Linked DNA regions of Homo sapiens. The protein of the gene in region 6 purifies or fractionates together with the protein of the main gene of each other region. This does not show direct contact. Each region holds a gene or a part of one and is shown on either strand. Other genes may lie near its edges. The genes, in order: NMD3, YJU2, TWF1, AARS1, DCTPP1, CIAPIN1 and GDA.

Region 1 (4,482 bases), on a different chromosome or scaffold from region 6:
GAACATTTGGCTTTTTGTGGCCCATTGGAACATTTAGTTTGAATATGAATTTTAACCAATTTTGTTATTACTGTAGATCATTTTTTAACATTGTCTATAGAATAAATTATTTTTTAAGGAAGACCACATTTTGGTAGGTATCTTAGTATTTGGATGTATCTTCTGCTTGATCTTTTTCATGTATTTTCTGTAATATAAGTTTCCTTTATACAAAAAGTGAGTTTATTTTGATATTTTTCAAAGTCATTCATTATCTTTATCAGTTAGGATTCATAAGTTAAAGATCTGTTAGCAATATTGGGATGGACATTCTTTACCTATCTGGTAGAACTAGGCTTTATTTCCCATAAACTAAGCAGCTAAGGTGACAGATACGTTTCTAAAATAAAGTGCCAGCACGTGAAACAGCTGTACCACTGATTGGCTCTGATCTTACTTAAGAGGCACTTAGCCCTGTGGCATTCTGGTTATAGTAACTATTTAAGATATGTTTGACATCTGATATATTTTTCTTGTGCTTTGAGAAGTTTGGGATTGGTTTATAGGAGTAATTGATGACCCTAAGGAGTGAGTTGACACTAGTTCTGTTGACCTGCCACTTCCCAGTTGGTATCTACCAGTTTATTCTTAGTTAATACATTTGATAATTGAAATATATAATTTTTCTTATGTTTTTGTGTTCTATCCTTATTTTTAGTGGCAGATATTGATGGGAGCACTTTCTGGAGTCACCCTTTCAATAGTTTATGTCATCCCAAACAGCTAGAGGAGTTTATTGTGATGGAATGCAGCATAGTCCAAGATATAAAACGTGCTGCAGGTGCTGGAATGATATCAAAAAAGGTAAGCTACATCCTGCCTGCCAGTGTATTTTTTTTTCCCCTCAGTTATTATTGTTTCAGTCCCTCTTTTAAAAAAAATTTGTTGGTGTTTCCACAGTATGGAATCCAAACTTAGCACCACATTAGGAAAAAAATTCTTTTTTTTTTTGTCTTTTTAATATGTGGTCATTGTGGAAATTGTTAGACTTAGACTGTTAAGTTAATTTATTCTCTTTTGTGTAGGAAAAATCTTTTAAATGTTTATTCCATTATATTTAAAAAAGGCATTTCTTTGCTTTATTTTTATAGAGGAGGACCTTTATTTTTGTAGTGGTTATCTTGACTTTTAAAAAGTCATCACCAAATACTAAATACTTCAGTGTGCATCTCTCACACACAGGAATATTTTTCTACATAATGAAAATGTTGTTACCATACCTATAAAACATACAGTCTACACAGTATTCTGCTCTTATCCATGGGGATACATTCCAAGACCCCCAGTGGATTTTTGAAACAACCCACAATAGTACCAAACTCTATGTGTATTGTTTTTTCCTATACATACATACCTATGATAGAGTTTAATTTATAAATTAGGCACAGTAAGAGATTAACAATAATTAATAATAAAATAGACCAATTATAATAATATACTGTAATAAAAGTTGTGTGAATGTAGTCTCTTTCTTAAAGTTATCTAATTCTACTCCACCAACCTGTTTTTGGATAGCGATTAACTGTGGGCAGATGAAAACTTTGAAAGGGAAACTATGGATAAGGGGGGGATTACTGTGTTCAGATTTCCTCATTTGTCCCAAAAGTGTCTTTTATGCCTTGTTCAAACAGGTATTCAATTGGAGACCACTCATTAAATGGGAATATTATACCTTTTTAGTCTTTTATTTAATAATAGTCCCCTTCTTTTTTCTTTTATTGGTTATGATACCAACTTCCTTAGACAACTAGTGCATTTATCTTGTAGAATACTCCACCTTCTAAATCTATCTAATTGTTTCCTCATGATGCCATTTAACTAGCTTCTTAATTCATTGTGTTTCCTCTAAACTGGAAAGTTGATCTAAAGGTTTGGTTACATTTAGGTTAAATTTTTCTTGCCAGAATATTTCAGAGATGATGCCATGTACTTTTTATTATATCAAGAGACAAGTAATGTCTGACTGTTTCACTTGTTAACATAGTGATAGTCAGATTCCTCCATTGTAATGTTATGATTTTTTTTCCTTCTGACCAGCAAGCAATCTGTGGCTTAATACTATAATAATATGCAAGTACTGAGTTCCTGTTACCTCTTTTTTTTTCTGGCTTTAGCATCTGTTGATAATTCTTGCCCATAAATTAATTATTTTATTCAGGGTTACAAAATGGTGAATTTTCTATTTCTATTCTACATTTACTAGCTGTCATTCTTAAAGAAGAGCTTTTCATTATTAACTAGGGGTTATGTAGCTTTCCTGAAATGCTCGCCTGCATACATTCTTTTAATTAATTAATTTTAGACATGATCTTGCCGTGTTGTTTGGGCTGGAGTGCGGTATGGCTTCATAGCTCACTGCAGCCTCAAACTCCTGGGCTCAAATGATCCTCCTGCCTCAGCCTCCTGAGTAGCTGGGACCACAAGTATGTGCCACCATGCCCAGCTAATTTTTTAATTTCTTTGTAGAGATGGGGTCTCCATGTTACTCAGGCTGGTCTTGAACTCCTGAGCTCAAGCAATCCTCCTGCCTTGGCCTCCCAAAGTGTTGGGATTACAGGCGTGAGCCACCTCCCCTGGCCTATGCATAAATTATTAATTCTTTTAGCAAATATTTTTAGAGTAAAGAGTTGATCTAGGAATCATTTCCAGTGGTGAAAATTAGCTTACATGTACAGGTGGTGTCTCTCTTTGTGATTATCATTGTGATCTCCTGAAGTATAAGTATTGTATCATTTACTGTATTTTCTTTTGTTTTCTTCTTCTCTCCTCCTCTCCCTTCATTTCTTTTCCTTTTTTTTTTTTTTTTTTAAAGAGACAAGGTCTCACTCTGTCTCTCAGAGCTGGAGTTCAATGGTATGATCATAGGTCACTGGAACCTTGAGGTTGTGTGCTCCAGTGATCTTACCACCTCAGCATGCTGCCACACCTGTCTCATTTCTATTTTTTAATTTTTTGTAGAGTCAATCTCACTGTTTTTTCAGGCTTGTCTCAAACGATCCTACTGCCTCCCTTATAGGAATGAGCATGAGCGCCTGCCCTTTCTTTTTTTTGAAATCCTCATATTGCCCTAAATTTATTCAATGGGAGCCCCTTCAGAATGGTTCCTATGTTGTTTTGACGTGACTCTCCTGGTCTTTGAAAGCATCCTTGATTTCTGGTGCAACACAGCATTCAGGTGTTCCAGAATCACATGTATAGTTTATAACCCATATCTGAAATCAAATGTTTCTTCAAAGATGAAAGTCTGGCTTCTTTTACTGTGAAATAGTATCTAGAGACTCCCAGGGTACCCTTGTGTGTGTGTGTGTGTGTGCGTGCTAATAATGCTTCTTGAGACAAAAATAACTTGTGATAATTTGGGAAAAATTAATGGAAATGGAAGACAGATGACATTCTACATTTTATTTATAAATTAAGGTAATGTACTTAGGGCAAACTTTTCATTTATAATAAATGTAGAGTATCATTTCCCTTCAGGCAGATATAAAACCAGATACTGTATTTTCTTGGTTTTTAAAAAATAGCTAGAAGAGGTTAATAAATTTCTTACAAGCAGAAGTCTAATAGCTAGAAAGTAAATCCTGTTAAATAAAATGTAGTCTCCCTGTTAATTGACTTTTCTTTTGCAGTTCTTAAGTTTGAGACTTGTCTTTTATTTCAGTTTCTCCTTCTGCTCTATTTCTTTTCATTTTTTTCATTTCTTTTTCTTTGACCAACTGCAATAAGAAACACTTGATTCTTTTCATAACTTTATTTTGAGATTCCTTAATTTTATTTATAACTCTTAGTATTTTTCTCTCGATCTCACTTCAGTTGGTCTGTCTTTGTTGTTAAAGGTGTTGGCATGTTAGAAAGGGAATTAATAGTTTTCTAGTTTAAAAATTGGGATGTTGTTTCTGCTATATATATATTATATATAGCAGATGTACTATATTATATATAGCAGATGTAGAGAATGATTGTAGTCTACACTAGTAGATACTTTAAAAATTAATTTGATAAAGATTTGGCCTCTCTAGTGGTTTACTACCAGGATTTCTAGGCTGTTTTGTCTGGACCCTGATTTTCTGAACCCTTGTGTCAAGCAAGAGTTTGCTTGGAATACGTTCTTGCTTTAAGATTCCCCTACCTTTTCAGTTATTTTGTTCACTCTGCCTATGTTGGCCCATCTTCCTGTGAAAACATTTCTTTTGAAAATTCTACATATATATATTTTTAGGGACATTATTAATGTTTTATAAAAGTCTTGAATAAAATCTTAGAAAAAGTCAATGATTTATTTTTATGAATTGTTTGTGAGTCTTTCTATACTCATGATTCAGTAATTTGTTAATTTTGACAGTGTTTCATACATCAGAAAAATACAAAAAATTTTCTGTCTTTAAAAATTAGAAAACCAAAAATCAATATTGTATTTAACTTTTCTCTGAGATGCTTTTAGAG
Region 2 (3,736 bases), on a different chromosome or scaffold from region 6:
CTCAGAGCACCTTCAGGGTCCGGCTGTGGGAAGGCAAAAAGTGTGTGGAGGACCACGCAGCCTCAGATGCGGCCCACCTCAGTTCTTCTCTCATGCCAGAGGCCACAGCATAGTCACAAGGCCCCATCTGGTGGCGAAGGAAACTGTGAGATGCATCCTCCAGCTGGTCCGTGCCTGGCTGTGCTGCCAACTAGAACGAAGGGAGGCCGGGCACCGTGGCTCAAAGTGCTGTAATCCCAGCACTTTGGGAGGCCGAGGCAGGCGGATCATCTGAGGTCAGGAGTTCGAGACCAGCCTGGCCAACATGGAGAAACCCTGTCTCTACTAAAAATACAAAAATTAGCTGGACATGGCGGTGCCTGCCTGTAATCCCAGTTACTCGGGAGGCTGAGGCAGGAGAATCACTTGAACCTGGGAGGCAGAGGTTGCAGTGAGCTGAGATTGTGCCATTGCCCTCCAGCCTGGGCAACAGAGTGAGACTCTATCTCAAAAAAAAAAAAAAAAAAAAGGAGGAAGGAGTTTTGGTGGATGACCAGCATTTTCCACCACAGCTGACTCATCCAAGGTGGCCTCAGCCACTCTGGTTTGTTCATTGAAGAAGGTGGTAAAAGTAGGGGCTCATAAACCAATAACACAGACACACAGAAACGATTGTTCTCGGCCGGGCGCGGTGGCTCACACCTGTAATCCCAGCACTTTGGGAGGCCAAGGCGGGTGGATCACGAGGTCAGGAGATCGAGATCATCCTATCTAACACGGTGAAACCCCATCTCTGCTAAAAATACAAAAAATTAGCCGGGCGTGGTGGCGGGCGCCTGTAGTCCCAGCTACTCAGGAGGCTGAGACAGGAGAATGGCGTGAACCCAGGAGGTGGAGCTTGCAGTGAGCCGAGATTGTGCCACTGCACTCCAGCCTGGGCGACAGAGCGAGACTCTGTCTCAAAAAAAAAAAAAAAAAAAAAAAAAGAAACGATTGTTCTTTCTTCCTTTTTTGTTTGTTTGTTTGACACAGGGTCTTACTCTGTTGCCCAGGCTGGAGTGCAGTAATGCAGTCCCAGCTCACTGCAGCCTGAACCTCCTAGGCTCAAGCAATCCTCCCACCTCAGTCTCCTGAGCAGCTGGGACCACAGGCACGCACCACCACGCCTGGCTAATTTTTCTTTTCTTTCTTTCTTTTTTTTTTTTTAGACAGTTTCACTCTTGTTGCCCAGGCTGGAGTGCAGTGGTGTGATCTTGGCTCACTGCAACCTTCGCCCCCCGGGTTCAAGCGATTCTACTGCCTCAGCCTCCCAAGTAGCTGGGATTACAGGCGCCTGCCACCATGCCCGGCTAATTTTTGTATTTTTAGTAGAGATGGCGTTTCACCATGTTGGCCAGGCTGATCTAGAACTCCTGACCTCAGGTGATTCACCTGACTCGGCCGCCCAAAGTGCTGGGATTACAGGCGTGAGCCACTGTGCCTGGCCCCTAATTTTTCAAATTCTTTTTGCAGAGATGCGGTCTTGCTGTGTTGCCCAGGCTGGTCTCACGCACCTGGCCTCAAGCAGTTCTCCCGCCAAGGCACAGGGATTACAGACATCAGCCACCATGTCTGGCCCCAAGACATTTTTCTAAAAGACATTTTCTTTGAAGCTGTGTCCTCTGATTAGAGTTCTCACACTGTGGTTCTCACATAAACCACTCCCAGAATTCATTGTCTACAACTTCCTCTCTTCTTTTCTTTTTTTTTTGAATGAATCAACAGAGTAAAGGTACTTTGAAAGCAGTCCAACCTTTTTTGATTTACTCCCTCAGTCTTGTGCCTCTACCTGATTTGATAGCAGGTGTTTTATTTGGTTTTAACGTGATTCACCTTCATCAAGACTTTTCAAACCTTCACCCTAACTTTTATAGGAAGGAATATCTCCACACTTGCGTTTTCTTGGTTTATTTTATTTTTATTTTAGAGATGAGGTCTTGCTCTGTCACCCAGGCTGGAGTGCAGTGACGCGATCACAGCTCGCTGCAGCCTCCAACTCCTGGGCTCAAATGATCCTCCCACCTCAGCCTCTCAAGTAGCTGGGACCCACAAGTGTGTAGTGTGTGCCACCACAGCCAGCTAATTTTTAATTTTCTTTTCTTTTTTTTTTTTTAGAGGCGAGTCTGTATGTTGTCTAGGCTGGTCTCAAACTCCTATCCTCAAGCAGTCCTCCCGCCTTGGCCTCCCAATCCTTAGTTTAGTTTAATGATGATGAGTACCACCTGTAGAAACAGGTTTGGGAACTAACCTAGGTAACTTTTTTTTTTTTGAGACGGTCTTGTTCTTTCGCCCAGGCTGGAGTGCAGTGGCACGGTCTCGGCTCACTGCAACCTCCGGCTCCCAGCCTGTAGCAATTGTCCTGCCTTAGCCTCCTGAGTAGCTGGGATTACAGGCGTGTGCTACCACACCTGGCTAGGTTTTGTATTTTCTTTTTATTAATAAAGAGACGGGGTTTCACCATGTTGACCAGGCTGGTCTCGAACTCTTGACCTCAAGTGGTCCACCCGCCTCGGCCTCCCAAAGTGTTGGGATTACAGGTGTGTGCCTCTGTGCCTGGCCATCTGTGCCTTTTGACTTCTTTTCCTCATTTTGACATCAGCCCAGAGCTACGACATTTTTTTTTTTTTTTTTCGAGACGGCGTCTCGCCCTGTCACCCAGGCTGGAGTGCAGTGGCACGATCTCGGCTCACTGCAACCTCTGCCTCCCAGGTTCAAGCGATTCTCCTGCCTCAGTCTCCCGAGTAGCTGGGATTACAGGCGTGTGCCACCAAGCCTGGCTAATTTCTTGTATTTATAGTAGAGACGGGCTTTCACCGTGTTAGCCAGGATGGTCTCTATCTGACCTCGTGATCCACCTGCCTTGGCCTCCCAAAGTGCCGGGATTAGAAGCATGAGCCACTGCGCCCGGCCCAGAGCCACAACTTTAAGGAGGCCTCTCCACCACCTTAGCAGTGGCCGCCCCTCACACCGTCAGCTTGGCACTCAAGGTCTCTGCCCATTCTCCATCCCACCTAGCCTGCCCTGGCACTTCCTGAATCACACTGTGGCTTCTCATCACGCCTTTACCCATGCCATTCCCCTTACCTGGGATGCCCCCTTTGCCAAGCACTCGCTTGGTGAACTCCTACTCGCCCTTCAATACCCAATGCAAGACGCCCTTCCTCTGAGAAGCTCATCCTCACAATTCAAGCTCACGCACCCTGGCTTCTCTCTCACCCAGATGGATGTTATCCTGGGTATTGGTCTCCTTGTCCCTCTCCCTCCCCACACGGTGAGCTCCGTGAGGGCAGAGCACCCATTGGGACTTCCTTAACCCAGTGGTTACCACTTCCTCTATTTAAACATAAAACAGATTGAAGAGGCTAGATGCAGTGGCTCACGCCTGTCATCCCAGCTCTTTGGGACGCTGAGACGGGAGGATCGCTTGAGCCAGGAGTTTGAGACCAGCCTGGGCAACATAGCGAGATCCCGTCTCTACAAAAATTAAAAATGTTAGCCTGCCATGGTGGCGTGCACCTGCAGGAGGCTGAGGCAGGAGAATCGCTTGAGCCCAGGAGTTCGAGGCTGCAGTGAGCTATGATTGCACCACTGCACTCCAGCCTGGGCAATAGAGTGAGACCTTCCCCCCAAAAAAATTTTTTTAATAATATAGATTAAAGGGTCCCTTCTGTTGCAGTTAAGGAGCTGGAGGCCTTTTCTACCTGCCCCTAACTCTTTC
Region 3 (4,482 bases), on a different chromosome or scaffold from region 6:
ATTGTTTTACATTTTTTAAGGGTTGTTAAACAACAATAAGAATATATGACAGAGATTATATGTGGCTTGGCAAAGCCTTTACTTACTATTTGGTCCTCTGTAGAAAGTCAGCTGATCCCTGCTATAGAAGGTGCTACCCATGATAAAGTGATTGATTCTTAGGAACTTAAAAAGCATGAAGGGTTCAGAACCTAAAAACACTGGTAGTTTTTAAGGACCTGTATTTTTATGAGTTTAAGGGCTCAAGAATATATATCTTTCCCCATGCCTTATCTGTACTTAAGAAAATTTAAGAAAATTGGTAGCTTAGTTCCCAAAATTCAAATGTTTATGCTTATTCCTTCCTTCCCCCAAACTGGAAAGACTCCCAACCATCCCATAATTCAGTCATAATGGAGACTGTAATTCCTTATTAATATGCAGTAGAAATAATCACAAGTATGCAGCTCTGGCAGCGCTGTCCAATAGGACTTTTTGCACTGATGGAAATGTCCTATAAATTCTGCACTAACCAATACGGTAGCCAGTAGCCACATTTAGCTAATGAGAATTTGACATAAGGCTAGTGGAATTAAGAAACAGAACTTTAAATCTTATTTAAAGTTAAATAGCCACATGTGGCTTACTAGGAAGTACAGATATATATAGAGATGGGGATCATGACAGGTAGTTCCCAGGCACTTAGAGGAGATCCTAAGGATTTAGGATGATAACAAGAAAAATAAATATTTTCATTTATAAATCACAGTACATCATAAACTACATAGAAATGAAAAGAAAAATTTAGCAAAAACTGAAGATTTTAAAATAGGTGGGCTACCTTTCTAATTACATCCATTTGTAGTTGTCTTTCTACAATTTCTAGCAGACGGCTCTTGCAGCTAGAATACAGCATCCGCTCTCTTATACTGCATGTGTATCCAGGCATTGAATAAATAAAAACTGTAAGTTCAAATAATAACAAATATAATTAGCATATCAATACATAAACTTCATAAAACTACATATATAAACTTCATAAAAACAAGTACAGAAACTTCATAAAACTACAGCTAAGCCCTCTGGGCAAGAAATAAGTAAGAATATAGGGCTGATACACCAATAAACAAACTGAAAGTAATGTGTTAAAAACAATGTATCATATACCTATGGACTCTAAATAGTCTCCTTCATGGGAATGTTTATACAGAAAGAAATGGTAACGAGCTGAATCCTTGGGAATCCTCTTTGGCAAATCTTTCAGTTCTGTATTTGTTGTGTTGGCCAAAATTATAATTTCATTTTTTATATCTATTTCCTGCCAATAAGAAACAAAATATGTTCATTAAAACCAGATATAAGGAAATTAAGTTAAAACATATAATAAAAAGACCAAGAGATAAAGGAGGAACTTAGTTCTGGATGGTTTGACTTTTTCACAATGAACATTTACAAAATGAATTTTAGAAATCAGAAAGCTATTTAAAATGTAAAATCCATTAATAATAAACCCTATATGAGTCATAAACTACCAAAAAGAGCAGCCACTTAATAATCATTATACATCTCTTACCAACTGCACATAGTTGAGCTGTCTATTATTCAATTTTTCCAAAGCCTGAAAGGCTTCTCGAGAAATGGGAAATGCTACTCCTTGTAGTGTTTGATGCTTAGTGTCCACACCCACGTCAGTCTGTACCTAAGTATGACAGATTTAATTTACAAGTTTAGCAGTTAGCAGTATCCTATGGCAAACATAAGAAAACCCAACCTCTATAAAATAGTATCATTCAACCCTAGCCCAACCTATAATTAAAATTATTTTTCACATTTGTTTACGGTCCTGCTAGCATTTTGTCAACATGCAGAGTGCATGACACATCTTTACGACAATGTTGGAAGTGAACATTTGAATGAGTGTACAGTTAGTGGGGTTTGGGTGGGTTTGTTTTTATGTTTGGTTTGGCACAATTTCTTTAGAGTGTCATCAGATTACACCACTGATTGTAAAATTTTACTTGATAGAATTTATAAACAACAATCTACATACAATATGTATAGAACTTTACTTTGTTCTGTTGGACAGAAAATGCAACACAAACATCATGCACTGAATTGAAAGGAGTACAAACAGTGTACAAAGACAACACAGCTCAACAAGTTATACTACTGCAGAAGTTCCAGACTTAAGAGATTTCTTTACTAAGAACATGGTGTGCATGTACTGGAAGAGGAGAAAGATAAGAAAGCATTCAATGCACATGTTTAAGATTTTTATACTTGATAAATGATAGCTAGTAGAGAGTCTCATTCGCAGTGTTGCAACAGAAAGTCCAATAGAAATTTTACTTTTAAAAAAATGAATGGAGATTCTACAGCATAAATGATATTGGTTAATGAAAACATCATAGAACATATGCGAATGCATACCCCAATATGATCCTCTGGGCTCTGATTGCAAGAAATAAAACAAACTATCAAACTCGTAAAAAAAAAAAAAAATCACATAAAAAGCCCTACTCAAATAATATGAATTAAAATAATATGATAGATCCTTGCTACCAGTTTAATATTAAATGATATTCAACCATTCTCCAGACTGATTCCTACTGTCTGTGACTCAGGCTAATGAACAGTGGTTTCAGCTAATGAATAGTGGTTTCAGCCACTTGTTCTTTTCTGTAAAGTCCCAGTAGAAATACAGTAGTTATTCCAGTATGTTAGAATGGCTGTAGAAAACACATTAAAAATAATGATAAACTACAAAATAATATGGCTGAAATTTATTGACTCTAATATGCTCAACAGGTACTCAAATAATAATCTTCCATATATATCTCTATTCAAGTAGAGTTCATAGAAGTTAATTTGTAGACTCTCTAGAAAGCCAACAAAACAATAATCTGCTTCAGGCAACCTTATTAGATACATTCTTTGCACTAAATGGGTAACACACACTTTTTCTCTATATAATATTCAAAGTACAAAGTTCACAACAGTTGTACTTCAAAAGGAAGATTTACTATTCTGACATGAAGATTATAGGAAAAGCTATTTATAAAATGCATATAAAGTTTAATATTCATTTTAACTTTTTTTTTCTGAAAAGGCATTAAGCACATAGCCTTATCTCTAAACTAAACGGAATAAACCTAAGCTACCTAACTTCTTTAATCTCTAGTTATCCTCCCACATCTATTAATTAAAAATACAGTATTTTCAAACACTTAAAATCTTGCAAAGACTTTGTAGTTGTAACTTACCTCATTGATTTTAATCTGTCGTAGTTCTTCCTCAGCTGCAGTCAGTGGGGCAGGGGAAGATTGTGACAGCAAGTATTTTTTATATCCATGTAATGATACATCTTCCTGTAAGTACAGAATAGACTATAATCAGTAATTCTCTAGAAGTAAAATGACAGTGAAGTTACTTTAGGAAAAACAAAATCATTAACAGAAAAGATTTTAAATGAAAATAAATAGCATTATGAATTTTAATATCTTTTTACTTTTCTTTAATCCTCAATTTTAAGTTTCAAAACTTTTTAAGGGGAGTACCCACTGTTCATTTTATATGAAGCTTTATAATTACTAAATATTTTGTATGAGTTTCATACTGGCAAAGTGAAATACTGAACCTGGTCATCCTGTAAGTCTATAGGACAACTGTAATTAACCTTCTGGAGAAAACTGCCCAATGATTATCCAATAATCAACATATTCAGATTCTGAATACTATGTTATAATGCTTAATATAATTTCTTTGTAATTATTCATGGAAAATTATTATAGTTTTCATGTCAAAAGAAAAAAATACTACAAAGAGGTCTACCTATCATCAAAATTTTGTGGTTTAGAAGACTGAGACTCATGAAATTAAGAAACCAGCCCACTTCACAATTAATGGTGAAGAAGCAATATATTCCCATCTAGTCTTGTGCTCTATCCACTAGATTATATGACTTTCTGAATCAGAAAAGCTCTAAACAAACAAAAAAGTTCAAAAATATATTTCAGTGTTTCAATTTGTGTATATATGTGTAAATACATATATTTACCATATACTTTAGAAGAATCAGTATGTTTCAATATCACTTGTCAATGTCAAATAGATACAAATGAATAAACTCAAAGTTACATATTCATTACAGCTAACTTTAATATTATATGAAATACAGTATTTCTCTTATTCTCATGTTTTCAGATTATCCATCTGAATTCGTATCAATTACCCATTACCTAGGAGTTCCTCTTTAATCATTTTAATTGCAACATATAGAATCCACATACAAACATAATACCTTTACTGTTCCAAATACTTCATCTTTAATGTGGCCACCTCCAAATTCCTTCTTCAGAGTTGCTCTTGTTGCTGCATACAACATTTTTTGACGAACCTATTCAGTTGTGAAAGTTTACTTAGTTTATAGATGAAAACATAACATTACAAAAGCAAGCACATTCTGAATATATTAATATCCTGAATCACATTAAAAACAAAACT
Region 4 (4,482 bases), about 13 Mb from region 6:
ACTTGCAGTGAGCCGAGATTGCACCACTGCACTCCAGCCTGGATGACAGAGCGAGACTCCGTCTCAGGAAAAAAAAAAAAAAAAAAAAGCTAATGTTTGAGTACCTACGTACTATGTGCGAAATACCGTGCTAAACATTTTGTATGTGTTATCTTATTCGCTTCTCACTAATACCTACAGGCCCGCAATATTATTCCTCATTTTGCAAAGAAACTGAGGCCCATCACATAAAGTTTCACAAGATCACACAGGGAGTGACAGAACCAGAATCGGTCTGACCCCAGGGCTGTGCTTTTATCTGGGCTCTGCTGCCTCTTATGTGAACCAAAAGCCAAGAAAAAAGGAAAAACCCTTACCTGGTTCATGCCTGCATTGGCAAAGAGCAAAGTGGGGTCATCCAATGGGATGGTGGCAGACGAGTGAACATACGTATGCTCGTTCCTCTTGAAGAAATCTATAAATCGCTGCCGGATTTCACTTGCTGTTAGAGTAGAGTCCATCTTGAAAGTCACCCCAAAGAACTAATCAAAGAAAAAAAAATGAAGGAAAATTAAGGGAATTGAAAGTCAAAGTACACATTACACAAGACTTCTGGCTTCTCAAGCCAAGTCAAAGCACGACTCAGGTGAGCTGTTTGATCCTAAAACCTCTATGTTGTAATGTCCAAGGCTAAAATCATCATCACCAGCAGACAGCAGCCCCATCTGTTCTTCCTTCCCATGCCAACCTCAAGAGGTTCAACACCCCAGCACACCAAGCACACTGCTGCTGGATGTTTGTTCATTAAACAAATATGTATCGAGCATCTGCTCTGTGTCAGGCCCGAGACTAGGAATTAGAAAAAAAGAGGGACAGCCAGGCACGATGGCTCACGCCTGTAATCCCAACACTTTGGGAGGGCAAGGTGGGCAGATCACAAGGTCAGGAGTTCAAGACCAGCCTGGCCAACATGGTGAAATCCCATCTCTACTAAAAATACAAAAAGTAACTGGGCATGGTGGTGCGTGCCTGTAATCCCAGCTACTTGCGAGACTGAGGCAGGAGAATCGCTTGAACCCAGGAGGTGGAGGTTGCAGTGAGCCAAGACCACACCACTGCACTCCAGCCTGGCGACAGAGAGAGACTCCGTCTCAAAAAAACAAAAAAAGAAGGAAAAAAAAAAAGAAAAAAAGGGGGAGAAAAACCCTCAGTTTAGTCCAACTGGGGAAGAGGGAGAGAGGCTCAGGAGACCGGGGTTTGAGTTCTAGCTTCAAGTCCTGAGGGAGTCACTTCACCAAAAAAAGGAGGGGTCCATATGAGATTATCTCTAAAGATCCCTTCAGCTCTGTGTTAATGTACACGCCTAGAACTGCAAAGTTCCACTAGCCCCAAAGTCAGGGTCTCTAGGTTTGGCCTGATGTCATGGTGAGGCGGCTGTCAGCAGCAATAGTCCTGGGGATGGGCCTATCTGTACAAGGGACCACCTGTATGTAGCAGGAATGTACCTACCTCTATGTAGCCTACATCCCCCAAGAACCCTAACAGCAAACGGCTGCCTTCCAGCCATTAGATTACCAGGGAGTGGGGATGCTGTAGCCCCACTTTGGAGGCACAGCTTACTGAAAGTGAAAGTACAAGGGAACTGGTGGAGAGAGAAAAAACTTTATGACTTCAAAGCTCTTTCACAAGTTGGGCGCGGTGGCTCACGCCTGTAATCCCAGCACTTTGGGAGACCGAGGTGGCAGAATTGCTTGAGCCCTGGAGTTTGAGACCACCCTGGGCAACATAGCAAGATCTTGTCAGTACAAATAGTAAAAAAATTAGCCAGGTGGGTGGATCACGAGGTCAGGAGATCCAGAACATCCTGGCTAACATGGTGAAACTCTGTCTCTACTAGAAAAAAAATACAAAAAATTAGCCGGGCGTGGTGGCAGGCGCCTGTAGTCCCAGCTACTCACAAGGCTGAGGCAGGAGAATGGCACGAACCCAGGAGGTGGAGGTTGCAGTCAGCCGAGATCGCGCCACTGCACTCCAGCCTGGGTGACAGAGCAAGACTCCGTCTCAAAAAAAACAAAAATGGCCGGGCGCGGTGGCTCACGCCTGTAATCCCAGCACTTTGAGAGGCCGAGGCAGGCGGATCACGAGGTCAGGAGATCAAGACTATCTTGGCTAACATGGTGAAACCCCGTCTCTACTAAAAATACAAAAAATAATCCGGGCATGGTGGCAGGCGCCTGTAGTCCCAGTTACTCGGAAAGCTGAGGCAGGAGAATGGCGTGAACCCAGGAGGCGGAGCTTGCAGTGAGCCAAGATCATGCCACTGCACTCCAGCCTGGGCGACAGAGACCTTGTGTCAACAAACAAACAAAAACAAAAACAGCTCTTTCACAGATATTACGATTTCCCTGAGAGGTAGGCTGGGGAGAAGTGACAGGCTTTGGTGAGAGTGCTGATCACTGGCATGGTGCTGTAGTGCCACAAACTGCTGTGTCTAGAAAAATGAGAACCATCTTATTCACAATATTATCATTATTATCAAAAAGTCTCTGGAATTCCAGACCCAACCGTAACCTTAATTCACTTTTGCCTGAGTTCAGTTCCTTTTCTGTAAAAAAGCAGTATCTACCCTGCCTACTCAACTGAGGTGTTGTGAGGATCAAAAGCTATACTGTATTTGGAAGCAATCTATAAAATGGAAAACGTTACGCCACGTGCGGTGGCTCACACCTGTAATCCCAGCACTTTGGGAGGCCAAGGTGGGTGGATCACCTGAGGTCAGGAGTTGAAGACCAGCCTGGCCAATATGGTGAAACCCCATCTCTACTAAAATACAAAAATTAGCCGGGAATGATGGCGAGTGCCTGTAATCCCAGCTACTCAGAAGGCTGAGATGGGAGAATCGCTTGAACCTGGGAAATAGTGGTTGCAGTAAGCCGAAATTGCGCCACTGCACTCCAGCCTGGGTGGCTGAGGGAGACTCCGTCTAAAAAAAAAAAAAAAGGAAAACCTTGAAGGAACAGAATGGATAATATTACTTTTAAGTTGTTTAGCTGAAAGTTTTCTTCTTTTTTTCTGGTTCTGTCCAGACTGGAGTGCAGTGGGACAATCACTTAAGCAGCCTTAAACTCCGAGGCTCAAGTAATCCTCCTGCCTCAGCCTCCCAAGTAACTGGGACTACAGTTGCACACCAGCATGCCCAGTTAATTTCTTTTTTTTTCTTTTTTGAGACAGAGTCTCACTCTGTCGCCCAGGCTGGAGCGCTGTGGCGCAATCTCAGCTCACTGCAGCTTCCACCTCCCAAGTTCCTGCAATTCTCCTGCCTCAGCCTCCTGGGTAACCTGGATTACAGGTAAGTGCCACCACACCCAGCTAATGTTTGTATTTTTAATAGAGACAGGGTTTCACCATGTTCCTCAGCCTGGTCTCGAACTCCTGACCTCAGGTGATCTGCCAGCCTCAGCCTCCCAAAGTGCTAGGATTACAGGCATGAGCCACCGCGCCCAGCTAATTTCTGTTTTTGTTATAAATGGAGTATTGCCATGCTGCCCACGCTGGTCTCGAACTCCTGGCCTCAATCTCCCAAGGTGTTGGGATGGCATGAGCCACCATGCCCAGCCAAAGTTTTCTCCTTATGAGGAAAATACAATAGAGATGTACAAAGTGAACAGGAGATCCTGACTCCAGCTACTTTCCAAAAGACACATGAATTTCCCATTTTTGCTTACTAATTCACCATAATGAATGCATACTATGTGCCAAGAATCAAAATGAATGACAGCCTATGTCCTTCCTGAGGAGACTATCATATGCAGAATTAACTGCAGTATTGTGTAAAAGGACTGAATATATTAACTATGAGTCTATGAAGGCTGAAACTATTAAAAGCTGTATCCCCACATTCATTTGTTTACCCCCATTTATTTATTCAATCTAAATTTATATTTATTCGATATAAATTCAATATATTTATTCAACATAAACTCATTGATTTATTCACTGGAGGGCTATATGGGATACAGAGGTAGCACAAAGGCAGAACCTCAGGTTTCACTTACTAACAGGAGCTGTAAAGGTCTTGGGTGCCTTAAATCACGCTGTGGCTCCAGCCACTCCACAGGAATTTTTTTTTTTTTTTTTTTTTTTTGAGACAGGGTCTCCCTCTCTGTCACCCAGGCTGGAGCGCAGGCAATGGTGCAATCACTTGGCCTTCCAGGCTCAGGTGTTCCTCCCACCTCAGCCTCCGGAGTAGCTAGGACTACAGGCATGTGCCACCAAACCCGACTAATTTTTTTGTATTTAAAAAAAATTTTTGAGGCCGGGTAGGGTGGCTCACGCCTATAATCCCAGTACTTTGGGAGGTCGAGGCGGGTGGATCACAAGGTCAGGAGATCAAGACCATCCTGGCTAACACGGTGAAACCCTGTCTCTACTAAAAATACAACACAACAAAAAATTAGCGGGGTGTGGTGGCACGCACCTATAATCCCAGCTACTTGGGAGGCT
Region 5 (5,208 bases), about 27 Mb from region 6:
CGGCCTCCCAAAGTGCTGGGATTACAGGTGTGAGCCACCGCACCTGGACCTTTTTCGTTGGGTTTTTTTTTTTTTTGAGACGGAGCCTTGCTCTGTCGCCCAGGCTAGAGTGCAGTGGCGCGATCTCGGCTCACTGCAAGCTCCGCCTCCTGGGTTCACGCCATTCTCCTGCCTCAGCCTCCTGCGTAGCTGGGACTACAGGCGCCCGCCACCACGCCCGGCTAATTTTTTTGTATTTTTAGTAGAGACGGGGTTTCACCGTGTTAGCCAGGATGGTCTTGATCTCCTAACCTCATGATCTGCCCGTCTCAGCCTCCCAAAGTGCTGGGATTACAGGTGTGAGCCACCCCGCCCAGCCCCTTTTTTGTTTTTTTTTTTTAAGGCAGAGTCTTGCTCTGTCGCCCAGGCTGGAGTGCCATGGTGTGATCTTGGCTAACTGCAGTCTCTGCCTCCTGGGTTCAAGCGATTCTTGTGCCTCAGCCTCCTGAGTAGCTGGGATTACAGGCGCCCGCCACCATGCCTGGCTAATTTTTGTATTTTTAGTAGAGACAGGGTTTCACCATGTTGGCCAGACTGGGTCATCACCTTGTGTTCTTTTCCTCATAGAACTTGTCATAATTCCAGATCTTCTAATATGAGATTACTGATTTACTGTCAATCTCCTTCCACTGTGAAGGTGGAAACCTTTCTGCCTTGTTCCAGGCCATATCTCAATTCTAGAAGACCTAGCACATAGGTGATGTTCATAAATCTGTCATGAGGCCATGTGCAGTGGTTCAACCTGTAACCCCAGTGCTGCGGGATGGTGAGGCAAGTGAATCACTTGAGACCAGGAGTTTGAGACCAGCCTGGGCAACAACAGCGAGAGATCCCATCTCTACAAAAAGTAAAAATAAATTAGCCAGGCTTGGTGGTGGCGCACGCCTGTAGACCCAGCTACTCCGAAGGCTGAGGTGGGAGGATCGTTTGAGCTCCTGAGGCTTCAGTGAGCTATGATCACACCAGTACACTCCAGCCTCAGCAACAGAGTGAGACCTTTTCTCTTAAAAAAATGACTGTCCTGGTCTAGGGCTCATCGCCTCTTGCCTGGTCTACACCAGCCAACTCTCTGGTGTCCCCTGCCCCATTCTCTCAGTGATCCATCCAATCCACCCTGTAGACACAGTGACCTTTCCAACACTCATATCTGGTCAGGTCTTCTGTCCAAACTCTCCATCATACTCTAGCCCTAATCATATCTTTGTGGGTTCAACTCCCACCCCTCTCCTCCACAGCCCTATCACTCATCCAACGTGTGCCTATTGAGCGCCTACTATGCGCTGGGCACTTGGGACACATCAGAGAAAACAGATCCCAAATCCCTGATTTTTCCTGAGATGCTTACAATGAAGGAGCGTCAGATTCTCCCTGAATTGAACTTGCCCTTTCTTGCCTCACTGCCCCTGCAAATGTAGTTCCCATGTCTGGAATGCCACAGGCAGGTCCTCTACAGAATACCTTCCTTTCAGCCCCAGAGGCAGAGGAAAAGGGTTGTTGGGCCAGGCGTGGTGGCTCACCCCTGTAATCCCAGCACTTTGGGAGGCCAAGGCGGGTGGATCACCTGAGGTCAGGAATTTGAGACTAGCCTGACCAATATGGTGAAACCCCGTCTCCACTAAAAATACAAAAATTAGCCAGGCGTGGTGGGGGGCACCTGTAGTCCCAGCTACTCGGGGGGCTGAGACAGAACTGCTTAAACCCAGGAGGCGGATGTTGCAGTGAGCCGAAATTGAGCCACTGCACTCCAGCCTGGGCGACAGAGCGAGACCCCGTCTCAAAAAAAAGCCAAAAAAACAAAAAACAAAAGAAGGGAAAAGGGTTGTTGCCACTGCTTCTTCCTAGACGGGACCTGTCCTGATGCTTTCACACCTCACACCTCTCTCTTCCAGGAGGCTGAGTGCCCCTAGAGGGCAGGGACCCGTGAGTCCTCTCTGCATCCCAACAACAGCAAAGAGCCTAGCAATCAGGAGGGGAAACTGAACCCATGAATGTTTGAAGACCAAATAAATGCTCCCCTCCCCTCCCCCACAACTCAGACTCTACCAGGAAGCTTTCCATCTACTCACAAGAGTTCTGCCAGCTCCCCCACTTCCCCAACCAAGGCCAGGAGGAGATTCCGAGGCTGATGGAACTGTTCCCAGTCTCGTTCCGCAGCAAACTCAGCATGGAGGCGGCGGCTGAAATAGGACAAAGGAGTGTAAGTCCAAGTCTCCGGGTTAGAGGGTGATGCAGGGGCCAGAGGCAGCTACCCCCGTAGTATGTAATGGGGCCTGGGACCAGGAGATTCTGCAACTAATTCATTGGATGGTATTGTGCAGGTCATTTCCTCTTTCCGGAACTTGGTTCCCTCATCTATAAAATGGGCGTGCCCCTGAACTGCCCTTAACATCTCGCCAAAACTAACAAAACCCTCTTCATTATTCCATCTCCTGCTGCTACTTCTGCAGTTTCCTCCACCTGGAATCGCCGCACATCAAAATGCAATTTCTCTTACAGAAGGTAGTTCCACAGACCCTTCCTCTAAGAAGCCTTTCTTGACCTCCTCCAGCAAAAAATAACGTCTCCCACCTCTCAGCACTTCGTTTGCCCCTCTCGTACCCCCGGCGCCTGGAGAGCAGAGGCGGTATCTGGTGCCGGTATCTTCCCAGGGCTAGGCTGAAGGGCGTTCCTAGTTACCACTCGGAGGCACCACCCAATTTCCCTTGCCTCAGGTGTGCACCGCTGCGCCCATTTTGCAGATGAGGTAAGAAGGCTCACCCAGGGACAGCCCACAGAGCCAGGACCCGAGCCCCGCTGCCAGCCCGCTTCCCGACCACGTGGAGGAACCCTCCCCAAAACGCGGGAGAAAGGGGCGACTTCCCCACCCCGAGCTGGGCCAGGCCTGCTTACATGTCCTCGAGCGTGGGCTCCGGGCTGAAGCTGAACCGGCCGGGAGCAGCAGTGTCCTCTCCCCCCGTGTCCCCACGAATCTCCCCACCGGCCACAGACATGCCGCCCACCGCTGCACCGCGACTTCACGGAAAACCCACGAGCCACGCTCGAAGCCCCGCCTCCAGAGCTCCGACCAATTACGGGAGTTCTCTATTGCCTCACGGGGCGGAGCCTGAGGAAAGAGACCAATGACTTTTGTGGAGTTTGCTACAGCCCTCCCCTTCCCTCACTGGACCAATCTGAGGGAGCTTCAAGCGCGCGTTTCTAGTCTTAGGCCCTGGAATTCTTCCGCTAGGCCCTGTGTCTAAAGGTAGAGGTACCAATTCGACCTGGGGAAGAGACGAAGGGCAGAGGGTGGGGGAAGCGCAGGCGCGTCACTTCGTTTATGGGCGCCAGAGGGCGCCAAAGCGAAACGGCAGCGGAAGAGGGCCCGTCAGGTGGAAAACCCTATAAATGAAAGGCCCTATGCATAGGTATTAAATCAGGGCTTAAGGACGTTGAGAAACCTCGAGGCCAACCCCCACACTATTTGGATGGGATTGAAGGGGAAGAGCGGAGTAAGATCAGACGGCAGTAGGACTTCAGCTCCCCGCCATCGCTGTGTCCTGTGGTTGAAACGATGGAGGTCGCCCCATCCCTGTCCTAAGGGAGGCAGTAGGCCCCAGCGCAACGTACATTGCCCTGAAACACGTGGCCCCTTATGGTCTGGCCTGTGCCGGCCTCTCCAGCCTCATGGGTCCCCAGCACGGCTCCTCCACCCCACACACGAGAACTCCAGGCTCCACTCACACCAGGGAATACGCGAGGTGGCGAGTCACAGGGTTGCTGCTTTCAAATCAGAACCACTGAGTTATTGGCCATGGGAGGAGCAGAGATCTTTATGAAACCCTAGAACAGGTGTAGTCTTGCAAAGAATGATTTATTATTGTACCCTTATTAGGGCTACTATCTCTGATTTCCACGTTTAAAGAGGCTTCCAGCTTGCTGGAAGTGAAAGCGTAAGAAAGCGCAGGAAGAGGCAGAGTCAGATTTTGGAAATTAAAATCCCAAGGCTGTGACAATTGCAATTCTAGGTATATGCCCTAGAGAAATTAATGAATATGTGCAGAGAGACACATGCAAGAAGTTCATTACAGTTTTGTTTCTAAGAGTGAAAAAAATTGAAAATAAAATGACTATCAACGGAAGAATGGCTACATGGAAGTATATTTATACAAATGATATTATCCAGCAGTTAAGATTGGATACATGCAACAGAAACAAGTTTAAACTGCTTTTAGCAAGAAAAAGAAATCTATTATTTTTATTTTTTAAATTTTTTATAGAGACAGGGTTTCACCATGTTGCCTAAGCTGGTCTTGAACCAGGATTGCTGGATTGGGCTCTAGCAATCCTCCTGCCTTGGCCTCCCGAAGTGCTGGGATTACAGGCACGAGCCACCCCCACCGGCCACAAGGAATTTATTGTAAGGATACAAGAGTGTCTCCAGAATACAGTGGGACCTCAGGAATGAACTGGAACTGGGGTGGCTGTTTTAAGCATTTTACATATTTAATCCTCATAGCAACTAATTTAATCCTCACAAAAACCCTATATGGTAGGTAATATTGTTGTCATCCCCATTTTAAAGATAAGGAAACTGAGGCCGGGCGCGGTGGCTCACGCCTGTAATGCCAGCACTTTGGGAGGCCGAGGCGGGCGGATCACGAGGTCAGGAGATCGAGACCATCCTGGCTAACACGGTGAAACCCCGTCTGTACTAAAAATACAAAAAATTAGCTGGGTGTGGTGGCGGGCACCTGTAGTCCCAGCTACTCAGGAGGCTGAGGCAGGAGAATGGTGTGAACCTGGGAGGTGGAGCTTGCAGTGAGCCGAGATCGCGCCACTGTGCTTCAGCCTGGGCGAAAGAGCGAGACTCCGTCTCAAAAAAAAAAAAAAAAAAAAAAAAAAAAAGATAAGGAAACTGAGAGGTTAAATAACTTAACAGCTAGTAAAGTGGTAGAGCTGGCGTCAAATCCAGGCAGTTTGGCTTCACAGTCTGTTATTAGACCCTATGATGTATTGCCTGAAATGGCGATAAATATGAAAAAAATAAATGTAACTGTATTTTAAATACTATGAAAGGCTGGGCGTAGTGGCTCATGCTTGTAATCCTAGCACTTTGGGAGGCGGAGGTGGGCAGATCACTTGAGATCAGGAGTTTGAGACCAGCCTGGGCAACATGGTGAAACCCTTTCT
Region 6 (4,482 bases):
CTCACAACCTCTGGAAGGGGTTTCAAGAAGCAGAGAGTGATAAAAAAACAATAATAATGGAATTATAACATTTAAGAGCTTAGGTAAAAACACTTCGAACAACAAAAAGGATTTGTCAAATTAAAATAGTATCGCTATGGCCAGGCACAGTGGCTCACACCTGTAATCCCGGCAGTTTGAGAGGCTGGGGCAGGCAGGTTGCTTGAGTCCAGGAGTTCGAGACCAGCCTGGGCAACATGGCGAAACCCCGTCTCTACAAAAAATACAAAAATTAGCCCAGTGTGGTAGTGCACACCTATAACCCCAGCTACTTGGTGGGGGCTGAGGCAGGAAGATTGCTTGAACCTGGGAGGTCGAGGCTGCAATGAGCTGAGATCATGCCACCGCACTCCAGCCTGGGTGACAAAGTGAGACCCTGTCTCAAAAATAATAATAATAATAATAATAATAAAATAATATCACTAAAATATATATACAATTGTCCTCATCTTACAATGGAGTTACATCCTGATAAATACTATTAAGATGAAAATGCATGTAATTCATCTAACCTACTAAACACAATTGCTTAGGTTAGCCTAGCCTACCTTAAACACGCTTAGGACACTTGCGTTAGCCTACAGTTGGGCAGAATCATCTAACACAAAGCCTGTTTATAATAAAGTGCTTAGTATCTCATGTAATTTACTGAAAACTGAAGTATACAGTTTCTACTGAATGAGTATTACTTTCATACTATCATAAAAGTTGAAAAATTATAGGTAGAACCATCATTAAGTCAAGGACCATCTGTACATTAAACAGAATAGGTTATTATTTTTTTTTTGTTTTTTCTTTGAGATCAAGTCTCACTCTGTTGTGCAGGCAAGAGTGCAGTGGTGCAATCTCGGCTCACTGCAACCTCCGCCTCCCAGGTTCAAGCGATTCTCGTGCCTTAGCTTCCCAAGTAGGTGGGATTACAGGCGTGTGCCACCACGCCTGGCTATTTTTTTTGTGTGTATTTTTAGTAGAGACGGGATTTTGCTATGTTGGCCCCAGATTGGTCTTGAACTCCTGGCCCCAAGTGATCTGTCCACCTCAGCCTCCCAAAGTGCTGGGATTACAGACATGAGCCACCACGCCCACCTGGTTATTATTGTTTGAATGCCTGCGAACCCATATAGGATTGAGCCTTTATTATTTTTCCTACTTTGAACTATAAAGCTATTAATTGGGATTTTCCTTTTGGCAGATAACAATAGCAAAGTGAAGACAGCATCTAAGCTGTGTTCAGCCCTGACTCTTTCTGGTCTTGTGGAAGTGAAAGAGGTACGTTTGTAGACAACTTTCTTTGCTGCCCTGCAGGTGAGGTAATCAGTATTGCTTAGAACTAGGAAACAAGAAATGCTGTGCATGTAAGATACATGATGCTTCAAAGGACAAAACTTGGGAGAATCGGCCGGGTGTGGTGGCTCACGTCTGTAATCCCAGCACTTTGGGAGGCCGAGGTGGGTGGATCACGAGCTCAGGAGATCGAGACCATCCTGGCTAACACAGTGAAACCCCGTCTCTACTAAAAATACAAAAAAATTAGTCGGGCCTGGTGGCAGACGCCTGTAGTCCCAGCCACTCAGGAGGCTGAGGCAGGAGAATGGCGTCAACCTGAGAGGCGGAGCTTGCAGTGAGCCGAGATCACGCCACTGCCCTCCAGCCTGGGCGACAGAGCGAGACTCTGTCTCAAAAAAAACAAAACAAAACAAAAAAAAACTTTTGAGAATAACCAACTTCAAAGAGACTCAGCTTGGCCCATGTGGGCTGGGGCTTGTTCTTGTCTCCTTGGTACTAGTTTAGTGGTGGTGACAGCTGAGGGGCATGAGCAGCAGCTCTGCTGCTTCCAACACCCACCTCTCAGTAGACCCGAATCCTAGGCCTGGGTGAACACTGCCATCTAGTTCAGCCTCACATTTTTGGTGGGAGGCTGGAATAGGTTAGAGGGCAAAGTTCCTTTTCTGACAATTCAGTGGAAATGTTTAAATTAAGCAGAAGTATTTATATTTCTACACTCTTTGATCTTAAAATTTTCTTGGATGTGGGAGAGGTAAATGTTACAGCATGATAGCTGTTGTGCCTGTTATTTCTTACATAATGTAGGGCCTTAAATTCTTTGTTTTTTAATTTTTTTTCTTGTTTTTGGAGACAGTCTCGCTCTGTTGCCCAGGCTGGAGTGCAGTGACACGATCTCTGCTTACTGCATCATCCGCCTCCTGGGTTCAAGCAATTCTCCTGCCTGAGCCTCCCGAGTAGCTGGGATTACAGGCGTGCGCCACCACACCTGGCTAATTTTTTGTATTTTTAGTACAGATGGGGTTTCGCTATGTTGGCCAGGCCGTTCTCTAACTCCTGACCTCAGGTGATCTACCCACCTTGGCCTTCCAAAGTGCTGGTATTACAGGCGTGAGCCAGGCCTTAGATTCTTTATGCCAGGCCTTAGATTCTTTATGCCAACCCTTTCTTATTTTTCCTTTTAGCTTAAGGTTTTCTGTGCTTGATTTTAAAATAAGGAATGTGTATTAGGCCATTCTTCTGTTCCTATAAAGGAATACCTAAGACTGAATAATTTATAAAGACAAGAGGTTTAATTGGCTCACTGTTCTGCAGACTGTACAGGAAGCACGGGCCTGCAACTGCTTGGCTTCTAGGGAGGCCTCAATGAACTTTTACTCGTGGCAGAAGGTGAAGCAGGAGCAGGCACATCACATGGCAAAAGCAGGATCAAGAAAGAGAGGAAGAGTCGGGGTGGGGAAGGTGCCATACTTTACAACCACCACATCTCATGAGAATTCAGATGGTGCTAAACCATTCATGAGAAATCTGCCCCCATGATCCAGTCACCTCTCACCAGGCCCCACCTCCAACATTGGGGATTACAGTTCAACATGAGATTTAGAGGGGACACATATCCAAACTATATCAGACTCCTCATAAAAATTCACTTTACACCAAAGCATACAGAATATAAAGTGACATCCCACTTCTTGCTCACACTTCCCTCCCCAGAGGAAGCCACCAATGCCTTTTTGTATGTCCGTTCAGACCTTTTCCTATGTATTTACAAGCATCTACATGCACATACTTTTTTAAAAATGTAAATAAGATCATAAGTATACATTGTTCAATCACCTTTTTTCCCACCCTTAGATATCATAGACACTTACCTACTTCAGTGTATTTCCCTTCATTCATATTAATGATGTAATAGTATTCCATACAATAGATGGACTGTGATTTATGTAACCAGTCTATAATTATTGGACATAGAGGTGGCACCCTGACCCTTTTTTTCTACCTTTACTCTCTGCTACTTTATCCCAAGGAACATAGAAAGGATTTTCCTCCCCCTTTTTCTTTTGGGATATAAATTTCTGCTGTCTTCATTGTGGGCATTCTTTCCTGTTACACAGTAGGACCACATCTGGTTCATTTTCATAATTGTATTACATCCCAAATAACTAGTATATGCCTCATCCCTAATGTTTTTTAAGTACTTTTACATTTTCCAAGGGGTAGGCTCCAAGTAAACATGCAGACAAAGGTTATACTCTAGGGTTCTGATCAGTGAGAAACTGAATGTGAGGCATAAAGTGTTATCTGTTACCATCCACTGTTACATCCTTAATGCACAGAAATGAGTCTTTGACTCCTGTGTAGGTAGACATAGTAAACCATTTTACAGAGGAGGGTGAACTAATCCTTTTGATGTCTTGAATTCTAGCTGCAGCGGGAGCCCCTAACCCCTGAGGAAGTACAGTCTGTTCGAGAACACCTTGGTCATGAAAGTGACAACCTGCTGTTTGTTCAGATCACAGGCAAAAAACCAAACTTTGAAGTGGGTTCTTCTAGGCAGCTTAAGCTTTCCATCACCAAGAAGTCTTCTCCTTCAGGTAAGGCTGGCCTAGGGACATTCTTCTGTTTGAATGGGCTTAGAGGGACATGTTAGAAATTGAGCCAGCAATAAATGAGATGGTGATATTTTTAGAGGATTAGTCCTTTGATTTCTGCCATTTCCACAAAGAAGAATACTTAATGTACTATTATCATGGGCATATTAGGATCCAAAACTGAAATAATACATAGGTATTATCTAGTTCAGCTCCTTCTTCTGCACCAGAAGATACCGAGGCCTCCTAATTTTACAGGACTGAGTCACACAGTTTAATTAATGAGGTCCTTCCAGGTCCCAGAATTAACGTTTCTCCTCAGAAGACCTCACAGTGTAGTGGTAATGGTGTATGAGAGTGCCCTGTTCCTGTTCTCATGTGCTTTTTTCCCCATGCCAGGAAAATCAGCTGTTCTTACTTTGAGGATGCTAAGACACTTATAAAACTATATTTCTTCTGACTAGAAAATTGTGTACAAGCACACGCGTGCACGCACGCGCACGCACACACACACACACACACAGCTCCATCCTCATCCTTCCTATCCCTATTTTTAAATGCCTGA
Region 7 (4,482 bases), on a different chromosome or scaffold from region 6:
GTGCCCCACTGTACTATTTACACACATTTACATACATTTTGCGATCACTCTTGATGCACTTACCTTCCAACCTTACATATGTAAGCTATCATCAAATCCAGTCAACTTGATCTAAATAGCTACTGATTCTATCCACCTCTCCATCTGCATTACTGACAATAACCGCTGAAGTCTAATGGACATGTACTACATGCCAGGCATTATTCTATATATTTTACACTTACTAATCCATTTTATCCTTTCAACAACCCTATTAGGTAGACCATAGTAATTATTTTATGCATAAAGAAATTTGGAGATACAAATGGTAAGGAACTTGATCAAATTCACATAGGTAATAAGTGATAGAGGTACTCTTAGGAGTTCATATCTCAGTTGATAACTACACTGCCTCTCTCATCTAAACCACATTCCATTTTACCTAAATACTGCAACAGGCTCCTATCTGACCTCCTTGCCTGCACTCAACTTCTCTTCAATGCATTTATCCTGAAGTTAGACCTTTATAACCACAAAATATAATCATGACACAATCCCACCATCCCCGATGCCCTCCATAACATAGCCCTGCCTACCTGTCCTGCCTTATCCTGTGTTAGCCTTCTCCTCAACCTTTGGACTCTGACTACCTTGACTGTTTCATTCCTTCCTACCCCAGGACCTTTGCACAGGCAGTCACAGGCAGTTCTCTCAACCTAGAAGGCTCTTCTTTACTTCCAATGCTGTCCACCTTACCTATTGGTATGGTTTGGATGTGCCTCCATCCAAATCTCATCTTGAATTGTACTCCCCTAATTCCCACATGTTGTGGGAGGAACCCAGTGGGCGATAACTTGAATCATGGGGGCAGTTTCCCCCATACTGTTCTCATGGTAGTGAATAAGTCTCACGAGATCTGATGGGTTTATCAGGAGTTTCCGCTTTTTCATCTTCCTCATTCTCTCTTGCTGCCGCCATGTAAGAAGTGTCTTTCACCTCCTGCCATGATTCTGAGGCTCCCCAGTCATGTGGAACTGTAAGTCCAATTAAACCTCTTTTTCTTCCCAGTCTCAGGTTGTTTTTGTCACCAATGTGAAAATTGACTAATATACCTACTTAACTTCTCATTGTTCACATCGCAAGTTTGATGTCACTTCACGCTAGGGAAAGCCTTCCCCTAACTAGTTCAAGTTCTGATAGGTCATGGCAGATTCTGTTAATTTATTACTAGATCATCAGTTTCAAGAGGGCAGGGCAGTATTTGCATACTTTGTTCATCAATTTATCTCCGGTGAAAACCCCAGTGTTTGGCTCAGGAATGAGTCACTTTTATTACAGCTACAAGTCTTAGCTCCCGTGCCAAAGTGCAGATTCTTTGAGGTCCAGGACTGTGCCCTAGAGAAGCAGTCAGCGACAGTAAAGAGAACATGGCCTTTGCCCCATACTAATTCAAAATCCAGCTACACCACCACCGTATCTGAATGCATGACTTCTCAAGTCTCAACTTCCTCATCTGTTAGTGGAAATAATGACATTGTCAAGTCTAAAAGAGATACTAAAGATAGCTTGCTAGTGAATCTAGCACCAAATGCTTCTTGATCTTTCTTCCAGGGTGCATCTTTGGGTCCCAGGGGATCAATGACATAAGCAGTGAGAATAAAAAGCTAAGGTTCTGTGACCACCCCATACAGTTCATCACAGGCCGTGGCTTCCTTCTCTACCACTTGGCATGTCACCATGTGAAAACATGCAAAATATCACAGTGAGCAAGAGGTTAAGGATTTGCTAGGAGGCAAAGGGAATAGAATGAACATGGTACATGTTAAGTATCCACTAAGTGCCAGGCATTTTCATACATTATCTCATTTAATAAATAGCAAAAGGAAATCTGACTCTACAAATGAGGAAACGGAGGCTCAGGCAGGTTAGGTCTCACCTGTGGTCTCAGCACAGGTAAGTGGTAGAGACTCTGACCTGAACCCAAGTCTCTATTCCTCCATTGGACTTGCTCCTGCCACCCCAGGACACAACCTCAAAATGAATCTCTTCCTCACTCTTGTTTCTGGGTAAGTGTGCATTAAAAGGCCCAAGGCATGTTTATGCATCTTTACTGTCAACCTGACCCTGATGTATGTGGGAAGAATCAGGCAACTTAGTAATATTTGAGCATGCATTACCTCAAGATTAAATATTTGCAAATGAATTAAACATGTTAGAGTCTATATTTTTTTTTTATTATACTTTAAGTTTTAGGGTACATGTGCACAATGTGCAGGTTAGTTACATATGTATACATGTGCCATGCTGGTGTGCTGCACCCATTAACTCGTCATTTAGCATTAGGTATATCTCCTAATGCTATCCCTCCCCCCTCCCCCCACCCCACAACAGTCCCCAGAGTATGATGTTCCCCTTCCTGTGTCCATGTGTTCTCATTGTTCAATTTCCATCTATGAGTGAGAACATGCAGTGTTTGGTTTTTTGTCCTTGCGACAGTTTCCAATTTCATCCATGTCCCTACAAAGGACATGAACTCATCATTTTTTATGGCTGCATAGTATTCCATGGTGTATATGTGCCACATTTTCTTAATCCAGTCTATCATTGATGGACATTTGGGTTGGTTCCAAGTCTTTGCTATTGTGAATAGTGCCACAATAAACATACGTGTGCATGTGTCTTTATAGCAGCATGATTTATAGTCCTTTGGGTATATACCCAGTAATGGGATGGCTGGGTCAAATGGTATTTCTAGTTCTAGATCCCTGAGGAATCGCCACACTGACTTCCACAATGGTTGAACTAGTTTACAGTCCCACCAACAGTGTAAAAGTATTCCTATTTCTCCCCATCAAGCTACCAATGACTTTCTTCACAGAATTGGAAAAAACTACTTTAAAGTTCATATGGAACCAAAAAAGAGCCCGCATCACCAAGTCAATCCTAAGCCAAAAGAACAAAGCTGGAGGCATCACGCTACCTGACTTCAAACTATACTACAAGGCTACAGTAACCAAAACAGCATGGTACTGGTACCAAAACAGAGATATACATCAATGGAACAGAACAGAGCCCTCAGAAATAATGCCGCCTATCTACAACTATCTGATCTTTGACAAACCTGAGAAAAACAAGCAATGGGGAAAGGATTCCCTATTTAATAAATGGTGCTAGGAAAACTGGCTAGCCATATGTAGAAAGCTGAAACTGGATCCCTTCCTTACACCTTATGCAAAAATTAATTCAAGATGGATTAAAGACTTAAACGTTAGACCTAAAACCATAAAAACCCTAGAAGAAAACCTAGGCATTACCATTCAGGACATAGGCATGGGCAAGGACTTCATGTCTAAAACACCAAAAGCCATGGCAACAAAAGCCAAAATTGACAAATGGGATCTAATTAAACTAAAGAGCTTCTGCACAGCAAAAGAAACTACCATCAGAGTGAACAGGCAACCTACAAAATGGGAGAAAATTTTCACAACCTACTCATCTGACAAAGGGCTAATATCAAGAATCCACAATGAACTCAAACAAATTTACAAGAAAAAAACAAACAACCCCATCAAAAAGTGGGCAAAGGATATGAACAGACACTTCTCAAAAGAAGACATTTATGTAGCCAAAAGACACATGAAAAAATGCTCATCATCACTGGCCATCAGAGAAATGCAAATCAAAACCACAATGAGATATCAGCTCACACCAGTTAGAATGGCAATCATTAGAGTCTATATTCTTAAAAGCTACATGCTACTTGAGCAGAAAGTATAACTCTGTATTTTGCTTTATACCAAAAAGTTGGCTAGATAATTTCTTTTAATTAACCTGCTTTTGAATGAGCTTTAATTTAATGTATTAAGAGCAGTTAGTCATTGGCATTCTCTGGGCCTAAACGAAGTTATACAAAATAAGGAATAAAGTTTAAAAGCGAGACCAGAAGGACAGAGTAAGCTTTGTGCCCTCTCGCTGAGATTCTACCCCAGATCTAAACTTGCAATGGAGAAATAAGCTCCTGATACTTCACACAGCTTGTCCCATCACAGAAACTATGTGTTACAGTTATTCAAAATGTAATCCACCCGCTGCTATAATCCACCCGCTACCTGCGTCTGAATCTCCTGGGATGCTTGTTGGAATGCCACTTTCTGGGGCCTACCCCAGGTCTATAGATTCAGAGTCTCTGAGGATGATGCCCAGAAATCAGCATATTATCAAGCACCCCTAGATATTTCTGATTCATTGCAAGGTTTGAGCTCCTAAAAATTTAGGAGTAAAAATTTACAGATCATTGGCCGGCGCGGTGGCTCACGCCTGTAATCCCAGCACTTTGGGAGGCCGAGGCAGGGGGATCACGAGGTCAGGAGATCAAGACCATCCTGTTAACACATTGAAACCCCAACTCTACTTAAAATACAAAAAAATCAGTGGGGCGTGGTGGCGCCTGTAGTCCCAGCTACTCGGGAGGCTGAGGCAGGAGAATGGCATGAACCCGGGAGG

Evidence for each region.
Region 1: the proteins of CIAPIN1 (region 6) and NMD3 fractionate together in Homo sapiens (co-fractionation; one large-scale study listed by BioGRID). This does not show direct contact.
Region 2: the proteins of CIAPIN1 (region 6) and YJU2 fractionate together in Homo sapiens (co-fractionation; one large-scale study listed by BioGRID). This does not show direct contact.
Region 3: the proteins of CIAPIN1 (region 6) and TWF1 fractionate together in Homo sapiens (co-fractionation; one large-scale study listed by BioGRID). This does not show direct contact.
Region 4: the proteins of CIAPIN1 (region 6) and AARS1 fractionate together in Homo sapiens (co-fractionation; one large-scale study listed by BioGRID). This does not show direct contact.
Region 5: the proteins of CIAPIN1 (region 6) and DCTPP1 fractionate together in Homo sapiens (co-fractionation; one large-scale study listed by BioGRID). This does not show direct contact.
Region 7: the proteins of CIAPIN1 (region 6) and GDA fractionate together in Homo sapiens (co-fractionation; one large-scale study listed by BioGRID). This does not show direct contact.

The regions. Positions count from the first base shown.
Region 1 is NC_000003.12:161,241,811-161,246,292, forward strand, and holds part of NMD3 (60S ribosomal export protein NMD3), read left to right. Parts: intron 1-697; coding exon 698-843; intron 844-4,482. UniProt on the Homo sapiens protein: Acts as an adapter for the XPO1/CRM1-mediated export of the 60S ribosomal subunit.
Region 2 is NC_000019.10:4,263,322-4,267,057, forward strand, and holds part of YJU2 (splicing factor YJU2), read left to right. Parts: intron 1-3,736.
Region 3 is NC_000012.12:43,796,156-43,800,637, forward strand, and holds part of TWF1 (twinfilin-1), read right to left. Parts: intron 4,376-4,482; coding exon 4,280-4,375; intron 3,348-4,279; coding exon 3,243-3,347; intron 2,431-3,242; coding exon of another isoform or gene 2,410-2,430; intron 1,679-2,409; coding exon 1,553-1,678; intron 1,298-1,552; coding exon 1,147-1,297; intron 943-1,146; coding exon 821-942; intron 1-820. UniProt on the Homo sapiens protein: Actin-binding protein involved in motile and morphological processes. Inhibits actin polymerization, likely by sequestering G-actin. By capping the barbed ends of filaments, it also regulates motility.
Region 4 is NC_000016.10:70,282,264-70,286,745, forward strand, and holds part of AARS1 (alanine--tRNA ligase, cytoplasmic), read right to left. Parts: intron 522-4,482; 5' UTR 501-521; coding exon 357-500; intron 1-356. UniProt on the Homo sapiens protein: Catalyzes the attachment of alanine to tRNA(Ala) in a two-step reaction: alanine is first activated by ATP to form Ala-AMP and then transferred to the acceptor end of tRNA(Ala). Also edits incorrectly charged tRNA(Ala) via its editing domain.
Region 5 is NC_000016.10:30,426,952-30,432,159, forward strand, and holds the start of DCTPP1 (dCTP pyrophosphatase 1), read right to left. Parts: upstream 3,080-5,208; 5' UTR 3,030-3,079; coding exon 2,929-3,029; exon of another isoform or gene 2,904-2,928; intron 2,850-2,903; exon of another isoform or gene 2,638-2,849; intron 2,217-2,637; coding exon 2,106-2,216; intron 1-2,105. UniProt on the Homo sapiens protein: Hydrolyzes deoxynucleoside triphosphates (dNTPs) to the corresponding nucleoside monophosphates. Has a strong preference for dCTP and its analogs including 5-iodo-dCTP and 5-methyl-dCTP for which it may even have a higher efficiency.
Region 6 is NC_000016.10:57,433,482-57,437,963, reverse strand, and holds part of CIAPIN1 (anamorsin), read left to right. Parts: intron 1-1,231; coding exon 1,232-1,308; intron 1,309-3,751; coding exon 3,752-3,920; intron 3,921-4,482. UniProt on the Homo sapiens protein: Component of the cytosolic iron-sulfur (Fe-S) protein assembly (CIA) machinery required for the maturation of extramitochondrial Fe-S proteins.
Region 7 is NC_000009.12:72,151,695-72,156,176, reverse strand, and holds part of GDA (guanine deaminase), read right to left. Parts: intron 1-4,482. UniProt on the Homo sapiens protein: Catalyzes the hydrolytic deamination of guanine, producing xanthine and ammonia.